2 separate regions of the Homo sapiens genome follow, and region 2 is linked to region 1. Evidence: fine-mapped expression QTL. Tissue or cell type: whole blood. Region 1 holds a variant in brackets; the other region holds the start of a gene. All regions are shown on one strand. Distances are between the middles of the regions.

What was found. PIP is the estimated chance that this variant, and not a neighbour inherited with it, causes the effect.
Region 2: it holds the start of ZNF177, and the variant in region 1 is fine-mapped to the expression of ZNF177 in whole blood (TOPMed, PIP above 0.99).

Annotation. Positions count from the first base shown.
Region 1 is chr19:9,586,596-9,594,828 of GRCh38, reverse strand. It overlaps LOC105376914 (a long non-coding RNA gene), which reads left to right. Exons shown (of 2, transcript XR_936311.3): 2 at 4,090-4,360. Among named protein-coding and RNA genes, the nearest start is that of ZNF121, 6.2 kb to the right of the region's middle. RefSeq lists an enhancer at 4,748-5,394. The variant C/T (reference allele first, on the strand shown) is at 4,240.
Region 2 is chr19:9,358,878-9,367,110 of GRCh38, reverse strand. ZNF177 (zinc finger protein 177) reads right to left here and starts at 4,098. Exons shown (of 8, transcript NM_001172651.2): 1 at 4,027-4,098; 2 at 2,163-2,249. It overlaps ZNF559-ZNF177 (ZNF559-ZNF177 readthrough), which reads right to left. Exons shown (of 13, transcript NM_001384659.1): 7 at 2,163-2,249.

The DNA.
Region 1 (8,233 bases):
GATATACAACAGGAAAAGGATGAAGGGACTGTGAGATTCCTAGACAGACTGAGGGAGCAAATGAGGCAATATGCAGGCCTTACTTTGGATGATCTCCTTGGGCAAGGAATGTTGAAACTCCAATTTGTCAGTAAAAGTTGCCTAGACATTTCAAAAAAGTTATAAAAAATAGACAATTGGGAAGACCGTCCTCTAAGTGAGCTTCTCAGGGAAGCTTAGAAAGTACATGTGAAACGGGATGAAGAAAAACAGAAACAAAAAACAAAACTTATGTTTTCCACCTTCCAACAGATGGCTCCAAACCCAGGTACTTCTAGACAGAGCTTCCAGGGACCTAGAAAGTATAAAGGGTCTGAACCCTGTTTTAAAGGCCCCCAGCCTCCATCTGGAGGACAAAGGTCCTCATCTACCAGGCCCCCTAAAGAGTATGGGGGGACAGGGTTAAAGAATCCCAGAACTAAGAGGGAGGAAGGACAAGATATGTGCTATAGATGTGGAAGAACAGGCCACTTCAAGAGAGAATGTCCTGAACTAAGGAGAAAGAAGCCCTTCCACTCATGACTTTCAAGGAATAGGGGGGTCAGGGGCCCTGTCTCTTTTATCTTGAGTCCCACCAGGAGCCCTTGATCAATTTGGATGTGGGACCTAAACATGAGCTTATCGCCTTTTTAGTCGATTCAGGGGCTGCTCGCTCCTGTTTGTTTCCCCCCATCTAATGTTGGCTCCTCCTCAGAGGAACTTTTAGTTTCCAGGGTAAAAGGGGAAGGATTTAGAGCAAAAATTTTACAAAGCACAGAAGTTAGACACCAGGATCGCTCAGCTTATATTCAGTTCTTGTTAATCCCTGAAGCAGGAACTAATTTCCTGGGGAGGGATTTAATGTTAAAGTTGGGCATAGGTCTACAAGTCAGCCCAAGAGAATTCTTCACCCCATTAAACCTACTCACCACTGCGGATGAAAAATATATTAATCCTAATGTCTGGTCCAAAGAAGGAGACTAAGGGAAACTCCAAGTCCCTCCAATCCACATCAGCTAAAAACCCCAGGAGAAGTAGTAAGAAGGAAACAATACCCTATTCCCCTAGAAGGCAGGATAAGGTTGAAACCTATAATCAAAGGCCTTATTAAGGACGGGCTTCTCCAGCCCTGTATGTCTCCTTAAAACACCCCAATACTGCCAGTCAAGAAATCAGATGGGTCATATCGGCTAGTACAGGACTGTAGAGCTATCAACCAAATAGTCCAGACTACCCACCCCGTTGTCCCCAATCCTTACACTATTCTTAACAAGATTTCATGTAATCATCAATGGTTTACTGTAATAGATTTGAAGAATGCTTTTTGGGCATGTCCCCTGGCTGAAGATAGCTGAGATCCCCAATCAGGGTGGAAACAACAATATCGATGGACAGTCTTGCCCCAAGGGTTCACAGACTCCCCTAATCTTTTTGGCCAAAGTTTAGAACAAGTACTAGAAAAAGTTGTCATCCCAGAACAAATATACCTTCTTCAGTACGTGGACAACATTCTTATATCTGGTGAAGATATAGAGAAGGTAACTGACTTCTCTACACATATTCTTAATCACCTGTAGTTTGAGGGGCTACGAGTCTCAACAAGAAAGCTTCAGTATGTAGATCCCGAAGTTAAGTATTTAGGCCACTTAATAAGTGCAGACAAGTGAAGAATAGGGCCTGAACGAATTGAGGGAATTGTGTCCCTACCCTTGCCTCAAACTAAACAAGAACTCAGGAAATGTTTAGGATTAGTTAGATACTGCCGCTTTTGGATTGACTCATATGCACTGCACAGTAAACTGTTATATCAAAAACTTGCTCAGGAGAAACCTAACTGTCTCCTGTGGACTTCTGAGGAAGTTGATCAAGTTGAGAAGCTGAAGGAAAGGCTCATAACTGCCCCTGTTTTAGCCTAACCCTCCCTGGAAAAGCCATTCCACCTTTTTGTTAATGTGGACAGTGGGATAACTTTAGGAGTGCTGACTCAAGAGCATGGAGGCTGCCGACAGCCTGTAGCCTTCCTACCAAAAGCCTCAGACCCAGTCACTTGTGGATGGCCTCAATGCATCCAGTCCATCGCAGCTACAGCAATAGTAGTCAAGGAAAGCAGAAAGTTAACCTTTGGAGGAAAATTGACAGTAAGCACGCCTCACCAAGTTAGAACTATCTTAAACCATAGAGCAGGGAGATGGCTTACTGACTCAAGAATCTTAAAGTATGAGGCCATTCTGTTAGAAAAAGATGATTTATGGCCGGGTATGGTGGCTTATGCCTGTAATCCCAGCACTTTGGGAGGCCGAGGCTGGTGGATCACAAGGTCAATAGATCAAGACCATCCTGGCCAACATGGTGAAACCCCATCTCTACTAAAAATACAAAAATTAGCTGGGCGTGGTGGCACACGCCTGTAGTCCCAGCTACTTGGCAGGCTGAAGCAGGAGGATCGCTTGAACCTGGGAGTTGGATGTTGCAGTGAGTTGAGATGGCACCACTGCACTCCAGCCTGGTGACAGAGTGAGACTCCGTCTCAAAAAAAGAAAAAAAAAAAAGGATGGTTTAACACTGACCACTGATAATTCACTCAACCCAGCAGGTTTCCTACAGGGAATCCAAATCTAAGGAGAGAACACACATGTTTAGATTTAATTGATTACCATAGAAAGGTTCGACCAGACCTAGGAGAAACCCCCTTCTGGACTGGAGGGCACTTATTCATAGATGGTTCCTCCTGGGTGATTGAGGGAAAAAGACACAATGGGTATTCAGTGATTGATGGAGAAACTCTCATAGAAATAGAGTCAGAAAAATTGCCCAACAGTTGGTCTGCTCAAATGTGTGAGCTGTTTGCACTCAGCCAAGCCTTAAAGTACTTACAGGACCAGGAGGGAACTATCTATACCGATTCTAAGTACACCTTTGAAGTGGCTCATACATTTGGAAAAATTTGGACTGAACGAGTTCTCATTAATAGTAAAGGTCAAGACCTTGTTCACAAGGAGCTGATCACCCAAGTATTGAATAATCTTCAGTTGCCGGAAAAAATAACTATTGTCCATGTTCCCGGACAACAGAAAAACCTCTTTTGAAAGTCGAGGAAATAACCTAGCAGATCAGGTAGCCAAGCAGGCTGCTGTGTCTTCTGAAATGCATATTTTTCACTTAACTCCCTACCTCCCTCCTCCTACCATAATCCCCATTTTCTCTTCCACCAAAAAAGAGAAACTAATAAACATAGACGCTAAAGAGAATTCAGAAGGAAAGTGGATGCTGTCAGACCAGAGAGAAATGTTGTCCAAACCCCTTATGAGGGAAGTCTTATCCTAACTACATCATGAGACCCACTGGGGGCCCCAGGCCATGTGTGATGCAGTTCTCAGAGTTTATAGTTATATAGGAATTTATACTCTGGCCAAACAGGTTACAGATAGTTGCTTAGTATGTAAGAAAACTAATAGACATACTATAAAAAGATTACCTCTCGGGGGAAGGAATCTGGGCTTAAGGCCATTCCAAAGTATCCAAGTTGATTACACAGAAATGCCTCCAATAGGTCGTCTAAAATATTTACTAGTGATAGTAGACTACCTCACTCACTTGGTTGAAGCTGTCCCCTTTTCAAATGCAACAGCCAATAATGTAGTTAAGGCCTTAATTGAAAATATAGTACCCAGGTTTGGACTAATAGAAAATATTGACTCAGACAATGGAACTCATTTCACCACACACATTATTAAAAAGCTATCCCAAACATTAGACATTAAATAGGAACACCATACTCCCTGGCACCCACCCTCATCAGGGAGAGTAGAAAGAATGAATCAGACTCTAAAGAACCACTTAACCAAATTAGTCTTAGAGACTCGATTGCCATGGACCAAGTGTCTTCCTATCGCCCTGCTGAGAATTCAAACTGCACCACGGAAAGACGTTGGTCTTTCTCCTTATGAGATGCTCTATGGATTACCTTATTTGCACTCCACTGCTGATATTCCTACCTTTGAAACAAAAGATCAATCCTTAAAAATTATATACTTTGTCTATCTTCTATTCTCTCTTCTCTTAAAACTAAAGGTCTATTAGCACAGGTGCCACCCTTAGAGTTCCCAGTGCATCATCAGCCTGGGGATCATGTCCTCATCAAGAGCTGGAAAGAGGAGAAGCCTGAGCCAGCCTGGGAATCTCATTACTTACTGCTCCTCACTACTGAAACCGCAGTCCGCA[C/T]GGCAGAGAGAGGATGGACTCATCACACCAGAGTCAAGAACGCGCCACCACCTCCAGAGTGGTGGGCCATAGTCCCAGGGGAAAACCCTACCAAACTAAAGCTAAGAAGAATTTAACTGTCTTTCATCTATTCTATTACTCTTTCTTCTTTCCTCGCTCTGTTGCTGACCATCTAGTTATTAACATAACCAAGTCAATTTTGCCTCAAACTGTTGCATTTAATGCTTGCCTTGTTATACCCTGTGGGGATTTGTCAAGTCAAAGGCAGCTCACTACTTCAGAAAAGCACCTCTGTCCCTCCTGGCTCTCCTCAGACTGGGCATTAGTGAATTAGGACCATTTAATCTGGGAGATTTCCATAAAGATCCCAGTGGAAACCAGGAGTCTTGACCCCAACCCCCGATGTAGAGCTTTTATGCCGTAGTTGGTCCAACGTTCTGTGGACCACCAAAGAGCAAGGATGGACTGCCCTAACCAGTTTTTGGAATTTCCTAAAACCATACATTCATTTACTAAAGGGACAGCCCCCCCCAACTGTCAGCCAAACCAGTGCAACCCTATACAGGTTAGTATTTTGAGCCCCAAAGTTCTCCTTTTCTAAGCCAGTTCCTTTCTTTAAGCCGGTTTTATGGTATAGGGGCTGAGGTTTCAAGGACAGACCCTACTGGATTCTTTGAAATGCGTTTCTTTGATCTCCCGCTGCCTGCACCTGCCTCTTAGCCTTTTTCCAAAACCTCTCACAACGGAACCATTGTTCCTCCTCCATCTAAGGACAAGGCCATGATAGCGATGGTAGAAGTTAAAGACTTAAACTTTGGCAATTGAGACAGGATACCAAGATGTAAATACCTGGTTGGAATGGATCAAATATTCCATCCGCATGTTAAACAAAAGCAATTGTTATGCTAGTGCGCACAGCAGGCCAGAGGCCCAGATTGTCCCCTTTCCACTAGGGTGGTTCTCCAATAGACCGGGCATGGGCTGCATGGTAACTCTTTTCCAGGATTCTACAGCCTAGGGTAAAGAGTCATGCCGACTCTCTGTCTCTGCTATATCCTGAAGTTCAACAACATGCTGGTCAGCCCCCGAGGGCCATCCAGCTTCCATCTCCCAACATTAAGTTCACTTCGTGTCTCTCACAACAGAGAGGAAACTTAGTGTTCCTTGGAGACCTGAAGGGATGCAGTGAGCTTAAGAACTTTCAAGAGCTTACCAATCAGTCAGCCCTTGCTCATCCCTGAGCGGATGTGTGGTGGTATTGTGGTGGACCTTTACTGGACACTCTGCTGAATAACTGGAGTGGCACTTGTGCTTTAGTCCAATTGGCTATCCCTTTCACCCTGGCATTTCAGCAACCAGAGGGAGGAAAGATAAGACTTCGTAAAGCAAGACAAGCCCGTTATAGGTCTTTCAACTCTCACGGCTATTTAGATGCAATTGGAGTCCCACGGGGAATACCAGATCAATTTAAAGCCCAAAATCCAATAGCTGCAGGATTTAAGTCAATATTTTGGTAGGCGACAGTTAATAAAAATGTAGATTGGGTGGGCCGGGCGCGATGGCTCATGCCTGTAATCCCAGCACTTTGGGAGGCCGAGGCGGGCGGATCACAAGGTCAGGAGATTGAGACCATCCTGGGTAACGCGGTGAAACCCTGTCTCTACTAAAAATACAAAAAATTCACCGGGCATGGTGGCAGGTGCCTGTAGTCCCAACTACTCAGGAGGCTGAGGTAGGAGAATGGCATGAACCCAGGAGGCGGAGCTTGCAGTGAGCCAAGATCGCACCACTGCATTCCAGCCTGGGTGACAGAGTGAGACTCCATCTCAAAAAAAAAAAAATGTAGATTGGGTAAACTACATCTATTACAACCAACAGCGATTTATTAACTACACTAGAGATGCTGTTAAAGGAATAGCTGAGCAATTGGGGGCTACTAACCTGATGGCTTGGGAAAATAGGATAGCTTTAGACATGGTATTAGCAGAAAGAGGAGGAGTTTGCATCATTATTAAAACTCATTGTTGCAACTTCATCCCAAACAACACGGCCCCTAATGGAAGTATAAGAAAGGCATTGCAAGGCCTGACTCCTCTATCCAATGAGTTGGCCAGCAATTCAGGGGTAAATTACCCATTTACAGAATGGCTAGAAAAGTGGTTCGGTAAATGGAAAGGAATAATAGCCTCAATTCTCACCTCCCTTGTAGCCGTAATGGGTGTACTTATCCTTGTCAGGTGCCGTGTCATACCATGCATCTGTAGGTTGGTGCAGAGGCTCATAGAAATGGCACTTACTAAAACCTCCTTTAACTATCCTCCACCTTATCCAGAGAAGCTCCTTCTTTTGGAAAATCAAGCAGAACAACTAAGTCAAGACATGTTAAATAAGTTTGAAGAGAAAGCCATAAAAAAAATGCAAGAGGAGGAAGTTGTTGAAAATGAATTATAAATTTCTCTTCAAAGAATTAATATGTCAGTATGCTCAATTCTTTGCCTTCTACTTTTAAACTTAACTTCCTCATAAAGCACCCTTTTCCCAAACCGCTCACTCCATCACTCTCTTTAAATTAGTCAATCGGAATTAGTTTAGCCTGTGAGGTCCAACCCTAGCCAGTAGGGGAACGACAGAGCAGTAGGGACCACGTGTGTCAGGAATAAGAACCCCTTTCCCTCCCTTGTCCAGGTGTGTGCCCACCATTGCTCCATCTGTGAGAGTGCACCCTTCTATAGAAGTATCTTGCCTTGCTGAGAATTAAAAAGAAAATTTTATATTCAAGTGTTATTTCTTTTGTGGCACCAAAACTTTATATGTGACAGACTGGAAGTTCAAGAGCAGCCTGGGCAACATAGAGAGATCTCTTCTCTACCCAAAATATTTTTAAAAATTAGCTGGATGTGGTGGTGTACATATGTATTCCCTGGTACTTGGGCAGGAGGATTACTTGAGCTCACAAAGTAAAGGCTGCACTGAGCAATGATAACGCTACTACACTCCAGCCTGTGTGACAGAGTGAAACCCTGTCAAAAAGAAAAAAAAAAAGTAGAATGTGATTTTAAACATCAGAACTAAACAGAATGATATGCTCAGAGAGGTTTCCCTATCCCTATCCTCTCCATTTTGTTCTTATCCCACCATTCTGTTCAAGCCCTTCCCATCTATCCCCGATAGATTCTGAATCTTATTATTTTCAGGATAGTCCTATCAGTGTTTCCCTGTACTCAGAATGAACAGATAATTACATATTTTATTTTTATTTTTTTGAGACTGAGTCTCACTCTATCGCCCAGGCTGGAGTGCAATGGCGCGATCTTGGCTCAATACAACCGCCGCTTCCCGGGTATAAGCAATTCTCCTGCCTCATCCTCCCGAGTAGCTGGGATTACAGGCGCCCGCCACCATGCCCGGCTAATTTTTGTATTTTTAGTAGAGGCGGAGTTTCACCATGTTGGCCAGACTTGTCCTTCAGAACTTTTTAACTGGAAGATATGCTGCCAGGCTGCTGAGCATCGTCACTTAGTCATATAAGCCCCCTCTTTGATTCCCCTTCTCCTCTGGGAGTCTTTCTTCCTTTCCACCCTTTCTGAGCAGCGACCCACAGGTAGAAGCCTGTGGATATTCTCTTGCTGTTTGCTACCTCCCGCCACTCCTTACCTGTCAAAGCACATCCCAAATGAAGCTTGTGTGCTACTGCCGCCTTGTGGTCACGTCTTTTTCCTTACTCAGCCAAGAAATCACTTACACCCTGAATGCGTATATGGTTTTATTTTTCACATTTAGATCCCTAGTCCATTTAGAGTTTATTCTTGTATATGCTGTGAAGTATGGATTTAATTTCATCTTTTCTCTGATGGCTACCCAGCTGTCTTAGACTTTCCATTACAAATGGCTTTTTTTGCCTCATTGATCTGAAATACCTTTTTTTTTTTTTTTTGAGATGGATTTTCACTCTTGTTGCCCAGGCTGGAGTCCAGTGGCGCGATCTCGGCTCACT
Region 2 (8,233 bases), 230 kb after region 1:
CTGACCTCATGATCCGCCCGCCTGGGCCTCCCAAAGTGCTGGGATTACAGGCGTGAGCCACCACGCCCAGCCTCAGCTGACTTTTGAAAACACAATTCAAAGATGGGCAAATGATCTGAATGTACATTTTTCTAAAGATAAAAAGGTCAACTGCACATGAAAAGATGCTGAACATCATTAGACACCAGGGAAATGCAAATCAAAACCACATTAAGATACCACTTCACACATTAAGGTGAGTGTAATTAAAAAGACAAGTGTGGATGAGGATGTGGAGAAATTCTCTTGTTTTTTTGTGGAGGGGAGTGAAGTGGGAAGTGGTGCTGCCACGTTGGCAAACAGCCTAGCATTTTACCAGAAGATTAAACATAAAAGTTCGTCTCATGAACAAGGCATTCCACTCCTAGGTATATACCCAAGAGAAATATTCACAGCAGCATTATTCATATTAGCCAAAAAGGAGAAACAACCCAAATGTCTATCTACCGATGAACGGATAAATGAAAATGTGGTATATCCATACAATGGACTATCATTTGACAATAGAAAATGAAGGCCAGGCATGGTGACTCATGCCTGTAATCCTCAGCACTTAGGGAGGCTGTAGTGGGTGGATCACATTAACCCAGGAGTTCAGACCAGCCTGGTAACACAGTGAGATCTCATCTCTACCAAAAATTTAAAAAAATAGCCAGGCTTGGTGGCCCACACCTGTGGTCCTACCTACTCGGGAGGCTAAGGTGGAAGGCCGAGCTAGGGAGGTCGAGGGCACCACGGCACTCCAGCCTGGGTGACAGAGAAAGACCTTGTCTCATTAAAAAAAGGAATGAGGCTAGGCACGGTGGCTCACGCCTGTAGTCCCAGCACTTTGGGAAGCCAAGGTGGGCGCATCACGAGGTCAGGAGATCCAGACCACTCTGGCCAACATGGTGAAAGAACGTCTCTACTAAAAATACAAAAATTAGCCGGGTGTGGTGGAGCATGCCTGTAATCCTAGCTACTTGGGAGGCTGAGGCAGGAGAATCACTTGAACCCGGGAGGCAGAGGTTGCAGTGAGCCGAGATTGCGCCACTGCACTCTAGCCTGGCGACAGAGGTAGATTTGGTGCTGTGACTCAGATCTGGGGACCTCCCTTGGGAGATCAATCCCCTATCCTCCTGCTCTTTGCTCTGTGAGAAAGATCCACCTATGACCTCAGGTCCTCAGACCGACCAGCCAAGGAACATCAATCCAATTTTAAATCAGGTAAGTGGCCTCTTTTTACTCTCTTCTCCAACCTCTCTTACTATCCCTCAACCTCTTTCTCATTTCAATCTTGGCGCCACACTTCAATCTCTCCCTTCTCTCAATTTCAGTTCCTTTCCTTTTCTCGTAGACAGGAGACGTGTTTTATCCATGGACCCAAAACTCCGGCGCCGGTCATGGACTCGGGAAGACAGTCTTCCCTTGGTGTTTAATCATGCGGGGACGCCTGCCTGATTATTCACCCACATTTCAGAGGTGTCTGACCACGTGGGGATGCCTGCCTTGGTCCTTCACCCTTAGCGGCAAGTACTGCTTTTCTGGGGGCAAGAACCCCCTGACCCCCTTCTCTCCATGTGTCTACCCTTCTCCGCTTTTCTGGGGGTCAAGAACCCCTGAACCCTTCTCTCCATATCTCTAGCCCTTCTCCACTTTTCTGGGGTGCAAGAACCCCCCGGTCCCTTCTCTCTGTGTCTCTACCCCTTCTCTGCTTTTCTGGAGGACAAGAAGCCCCCACCCCTTCTCTCCATGTCTCTACTCTCTCTTTTTTCTGGGCTTGCCTCCTTCACTATGGGCAAGCTTCTGCCCTCCATTCCCCCTTCTCCCTTAGCCTGTGTTCTTAAAGACCTAAAACCTTCCTCCTTATATCAACTCTACTCCCCCCATATTTAGACCTCTCACAACACAAACTACTATTCCTGTGGCAGCTCCTTTATGTATCTCTCAGCAAAGACCCACTGGAATTCCCCTAGGTAAACTTTCACCTTCTCGATGTTCCTTTACTCTTCATCTCCAAAGCCCAACTACACACATCACTGAAACAATTGGAGCCTTCCAGCTCCATATTACAGACAAGCCCTCTATCAGTAGTGGCAAACTTAAAAACATTAGCAGTAATTATTGCTTAGGAAGACACTTACCCTGTATTTCACTCCATCCTTGGCTACCTTCCCCTTGCTCGTCAGACTCTTCTCCCAGGCCCTCTTCTTGCTTACTTATACCCAGCCCTGAAAATAACAGTGAAAGGTTGCTTGTAGATACTCGACGTTTTCTCATACACCATGAAAATCGAACCTCCCCCTCGACGCAATTACCTCATCAGTCCCCATTACAACCTCTGACGACTGCCGCCCTAGCTGGATCCCTAGGATTCTAAGTACAAGACACCCCTTTCAGCACTCCTCATCTTTTTACTTTGCATCTCCAGTTTTGCCTCGCACAAGGTCTCTTTTTCCTCTGTGGATCCTCTACCTACATGTGTCTACCTGCTAATTGGACAGGCACATGCACACTAGTTTTCCTTACTCTCAAAATGCAATTTGCAAATAGGACTGAAGAGCTCCCTGTTCCCCTCATGACACCGACACGACAAAAAGAGTTATTCCACTAATTCCCTTGTCAGTTTAAGACTTTCTGCCTCCACTATTGCTCTCGGTACTGGAATAGCAGGCATTTCAACCTCTGTCAGGACCTTCCATAGTCTCTCTAATGAATTCTCTGCTAGCATCACAGTCATATCACAAACTTCATCAGTCCTCCAGGCCCAAGTTGACTCTAGCTGCAGTTGTCCTCCAAAACCGCCGAGGCCTTGACTTACTGCTGGAAAAGGAGAACATCTGTATATTCTTAAATGAAGAGTGTTGTTTTTACCTAAATCAATCTGACCTGGTGTATGACAACATAAAAAAACTCAAGAATAGAGCCCAAAAACTTGCCAACCATGGGGGAGTAACTGCTGATGAGTATGGGATTCTCTTTTGGGGCAATGAAAATGTTCTAGAGTTAGATTGTAGTCATGGTTGCACAACTCAATATACTAAAAACCACTGATTTATACACTTTAAATGAGATGAAATATATGATTTTATGTCAATAAAGCTGTTACAGAAGGGAATGTCTTTAATCTATCAAAAACACATAGCAAACATGTAAGTAGTGACAAGCTGAAAGCTTTCTTTCTGAGACCTGGAAGGCAGCAAGGATTGCTCCTTCTAATGTTTCGGAGGTCGTAGGCAGGGCAGTAAATTTGTAGGGCAGGAGTGGGTCGTAATAGGATTATAAAGGGAGAATAAAGTTCTTATTCATAAACGATATGTCAATATGTAAACATCCAAAAGAAACTACAGGTAAACTGAAAACTAAGGTCTGCTGCTTGCTGCATACAAAACACACCCTGAGGGCTCAAAAAAGCACAAGTCCCATAGAGGGGGATCTGGTCATACCTAGGAATTACACATTCATTTATGCTTTGACCCAACAACTTGACTTTCAAAAATAAACCTTGAAGACCTAAGTCCACAAATACGAAAAAACATGCACAAGCCCACTCAGATAGGAACTCAAATGTGTATCAGGCACTAGGGTGCATCCACATAACAGAGGGGAAAAAAAGGGACGATCTCCACAAACCAATAACGCGCATCCCAAGATATGCCTTCTAACAACGGAAAGTGAGGTCCAAGAGAGCATTTTCTTGAGAAAAAATAGTCTCCTACTGGGGACGACGTTTAAAGAGAAGGGTACAGAAAGTGGAGAAAAGGCCCCGCCGACGCACTCTGACCACATGAACCCACTTGCCTCCTCCCGGGAACCAATGCCCGGAATGGCAGCCCCAAGCCCAGCAGTGCCGGGAGGAACCAAAGCCGGCGGCCTCTGAGAAGAAACGCCGCGATAGCCGGAGGCTGGGGCGGGAAGCTGCAGGCAAGGTCTGGAGCAGCCGGGGCTGCGCACTGTGCCCTTGACCCCTTCCCTCCCGATTCCGCCGGCCTCACTAGTGGGGCGCACCTGGACCTGGCCTGCTGGGACAGCAACCCTTTCTCAGCTGCAGGCGACAGCTATGGGAGATGGCGAGGCGACGGACGCCCACTTCCGCTTCCGGCCAGCAGCTGAAAGGGGTGGGCTGCCCAGCTCGCACATTTGGCGGATTCGCCCTGAGGACTTGGGAACGGGGCATCGCAGGTGCTCCTGCTCCCTTAGGGCGAAGGCTGGGACTGTCTTTATTCATTGCATTAGAGTAAAATAAGAGGCACAAGCCAATTAACTTGCTTGGGTCTCAAAGCTAAGTAAAAGAGTCCACAGAACTAGAATCCGTACTGTCTTCCCCAAGGGAAAAAGCAAATGTCCCCAGAGGAAAATTGGACTCTGCAGCCGCAGAGGGAAAGGGGTCCAATTGCTCCCTCCCCTCTTCCTGACCAAAGGAAGACCCCCGAGGTCAGAGATGTTTTGGTCCGGACTCCAGTTTAAACAATTAAGTCCAGGTATTTAAAAAAAAACGGAGGGTCTCTGTGAGCACTTGAAATTATCCGCCAACAAAGGAGATCCTGTTTGGCCCAACAGGGTTTGACTCACATCTATATGATTGGAACCTTGGAATTAAAACTGAAAAGCTCAGTCCGGTGGTAGAAAAAAAGATGATTTTTAAATGGCTTTGGAGTTATTCACTGTTCAGACATCCCAAATCCAGGCTTTAAAAAAATCTCAATAGCCGCTCTTTGTCCCTTTTCCAGACACTCCCATGAATAAGATTCCTACTAGACAGAAGGATTTAAGAATGGTTAAGATAATCATTACTTTAAAAATTATTGTTTTGAGATTGAGCTTTGCTTGTCATCCAGACTGTAGTGCAGTGGCGCACTGTGGGCTCAGTGCAACCTCCGCCTCCCAGGTTCAAGCAATTCTCCTGCCTCAGCCTACCAAGTAGCTGGGATTACAGGCGGCTGCCACCATGCCCGGCTAATTTTTGTATTTTTAGTAGAGACGGGGTTTCACCATGTTGGCCAGGCTGGTCTTGAACTCCTGACCTCAAGTGATCCACCCGTCTAGGCCTCCCAAAGTGCTGGGATTACCGGCGTGAGTGCCCGGCCAGAGAATCATTGTTAATGTTATTCACTAGAGCCATTCAGAACTAAGAATCCTGGTTAAAGGAAATCTCAACCCCTCCTGGCAGTCTGTGCCTCTCACAGAGACCAGCTCCATAAAATAACTGCCTATAAACAGAAGATCCTTAAAGCACTAGGGATTAATTACTAACATTAGATTTAGACATTAGGGCCATTGTGTTTAAAACAAAAATTTCAATCTACATCCAAAAAGGGAAAGATTTTAAGAAGTTAGGTTCTTTTCTTTAGCACATGATTACAGCCTAAAAAGGAACTACTAGGGGAAGTGTGAGGATATTTACACACTTTCATTGACCAAGGACTCTTGGCTTTGTTCTGGGGACAAAGTGTGATGGTCGGAGGCAGAAGTAAAATGACTGTTAGCCCTCCTGAGCTCCATGGCAAACACACAGCCTTTGTTAATGCTGGTCTTGGCCTCCACCTGTATTCATGCACGAGGTAGAACCTCTCTTTTTTCTAGAGAAAACGCCAAGGCTGCATGCATGCAGATGCAAGGGCAGGCTGCTTGTTCACTGGAATACAGCTACTTCACTGATTACACTGATTCCATTTTTAAATTATTTTTTTTTTTTTCTGGAGAGGGAGGTTGGATAGAGGAGAAGGAAGTTTCAGGGAGTCAAAGGCCCAGAAACTCAGTGGAATGACTCTTCTCACCACCTGTTCTGTTCCCTGCTGCTGACAATTCCCACTGAGCCCTTCAAGTGTCTCCCACACACAGGACAAGTACTGCTGCTCCTACCTCCTCTCCCATGGACGCAAACATTGGTGGGAGCAATCATTTTATTTTTATGGCAAAGAGAAGCCCTGAGGGGACCCACATGGATGTCTTCAAGGTGACAGGCAGAGCCTGAGGCTCTGAAAAAGGCTGGCCTAAAACTACTGCACTAGATGTGCATTTCCCGCTTGGACGAATCTCATTTGAGAATTAATGACATAGCCTTTGCCTACGTGGGGCCCTGTTGGCTCTGACTGCAGTCAGGTTTGGGGTAGGCAGTGTAGAAACCCCCAAGATACCCTCACAGGCATCTGTAACACTCATGTTAGGGGTTTATTTATACTAAACCACAGTAGGTTCATGCAAATCTAAAAACACTTTATGACGTGTTTGTGTCTAAAATCCTTAATCTCTTAAAGCAATTAAAAAAAAAAAAAGCAGACCCCAAATTGAAAACAGGCTTTCCAATTTCAATGGGTAGTATTTTCTTCCGAGTCCTGTATTATCATTGGCCAGATTTTCAGAATTATTTTTTTAAAAGACTACTTTAGGAATTTTGTTAAAGGATACTGTCACCATTTATGCATCAAAAACTGGCAAAATTGTGCCACCTATGGATCCAGAGCAGAGACATGTTTGAATACAAATTCCCAATGAAACTAAACCTGGGGGTTTTCAGGGCTCAAAATCAAAACCTATAGCCTTGTTAAATGCTCATATATACTTTTTTTTTTTTTCTGAGACGGAGTCACCCTCTGTTGCCCAGGCTGGAATGCAGTGGCGCAATCTCAGCTCACTGCAACCTCCGCCTCCCGGGTTCAACCTGTTCTCATGTCTCAGCCTCCCCAGTAGCTGGGATTATAGGTGCCTGCCACCATGCCTGGCTAATTTTTGTATTTTTAGTAGAGATGGGCTTTTGCCACATTGGTCAGGTTGGCCTCGAACTCCTGACCTCAGGTGATCCACCCGTCTTGGCCTCCCAAAGTGTTGGGATTACAGGTGTGAGCCACCGTGTCCAGCCTCACATATGCTATTAACTTTTCATTCCTTTGTCAACTGCAAGAATCGTAGTATTTGACAAGTTGGGTTTTTCTTGTCAAATATTACCATTCTTGCAGTTGACAAAGGAATGAAAGTTTTTTTTTTTTTCAGTAGCTTGGCAAAACAATCCTCTTATTTCCGATGACAACAATACTCTCATTTTCTTCTAATTCCTGAAAATCAACATGTAACATACTTCATTTTATTGTGCTTTGCAGATAACGTGTGGGGTTTTATTTTTATTACAAATTGAAGGTTATTACAAATTGAAGGTTTGTGGCCACTGATGAAGTCTACTAGCACCATTTTTCCAATAACACATACTCACTTTGTTTCTCTGTCAGAATTTTTAAGCAAAGTATTTTACAATTAAGGTGCATCCTTTGTTTTTTAGACATAATGCTACTGCACACAATAGACTATAATTTTTTTTTTTTTTTTAAGATGCAGTATTGCTCTGTTGCCTAGGCTGGAGTGCCATGGCACAATCTCAACTCACTGCAGCCTCCACCTCCTGCGTTCAAGTGATTCTCCTGCCTCAGCCTCCCAAGTAGCTGGGATTGTAGGTGTGCTCCACCACACCTGGCTAATTTTTACATTTTTAGTAGAGAATGGGGTTTCACCATGTTGGACAGGCTGGTCTTGAACTCTTGACCTCAGGTGATCCACCACCCACCTCGGCCTCCCAAAGTGCTGGGATTATAGGCATGAACCACCACGCTCAGCATTTTTTTTTTTTTTTTTTTTTTTTTTTGAGACAGGGTATTACTCTGTCACCCAGGCTGGAATGCAGTGGCACAATCATAGCTTATTGCAGCCTTGAACTCCTGGGCTCAAGCAATCCACCTGCCTCAGCCTCCTGAATAGCTAGAACTACAGCTACTCCACCACACCTGACTGATGTAAAACATTTTTTTTGTAGAGATGGGGTCTTGCTATAGTTGCCCAGGCTGGTCTCAAACTCCTAGACTCAAGTGATCCTCCTACCTCAGCTTCTCAAAGCACTGGGATTACAGGTGACAGCCACCTCACCCAGCCAACGTAACTTTTATATGCACTAGGAAACCAAAAAATTTGTATGACTCACTTTACTATGATGGTCTGTGGAAGCGAACTCACATATCTCCGAGGTATGACTGTACATAACTGTGAAAACCTGAAATTAAATAAACTGTATTGTCTACAGATGCCAAAACAGTGGCAAAAAAATAAATAGCCCTTACTTATATTTTACCCTGAGTGTGGTTCTGAATTTGAAGAATGGTTACTCAGAGGCAAAGAGATTGGGGAAAAAAAGATCAGTCTAAATCTTGATATTATTTCTCCTAGACTTAAC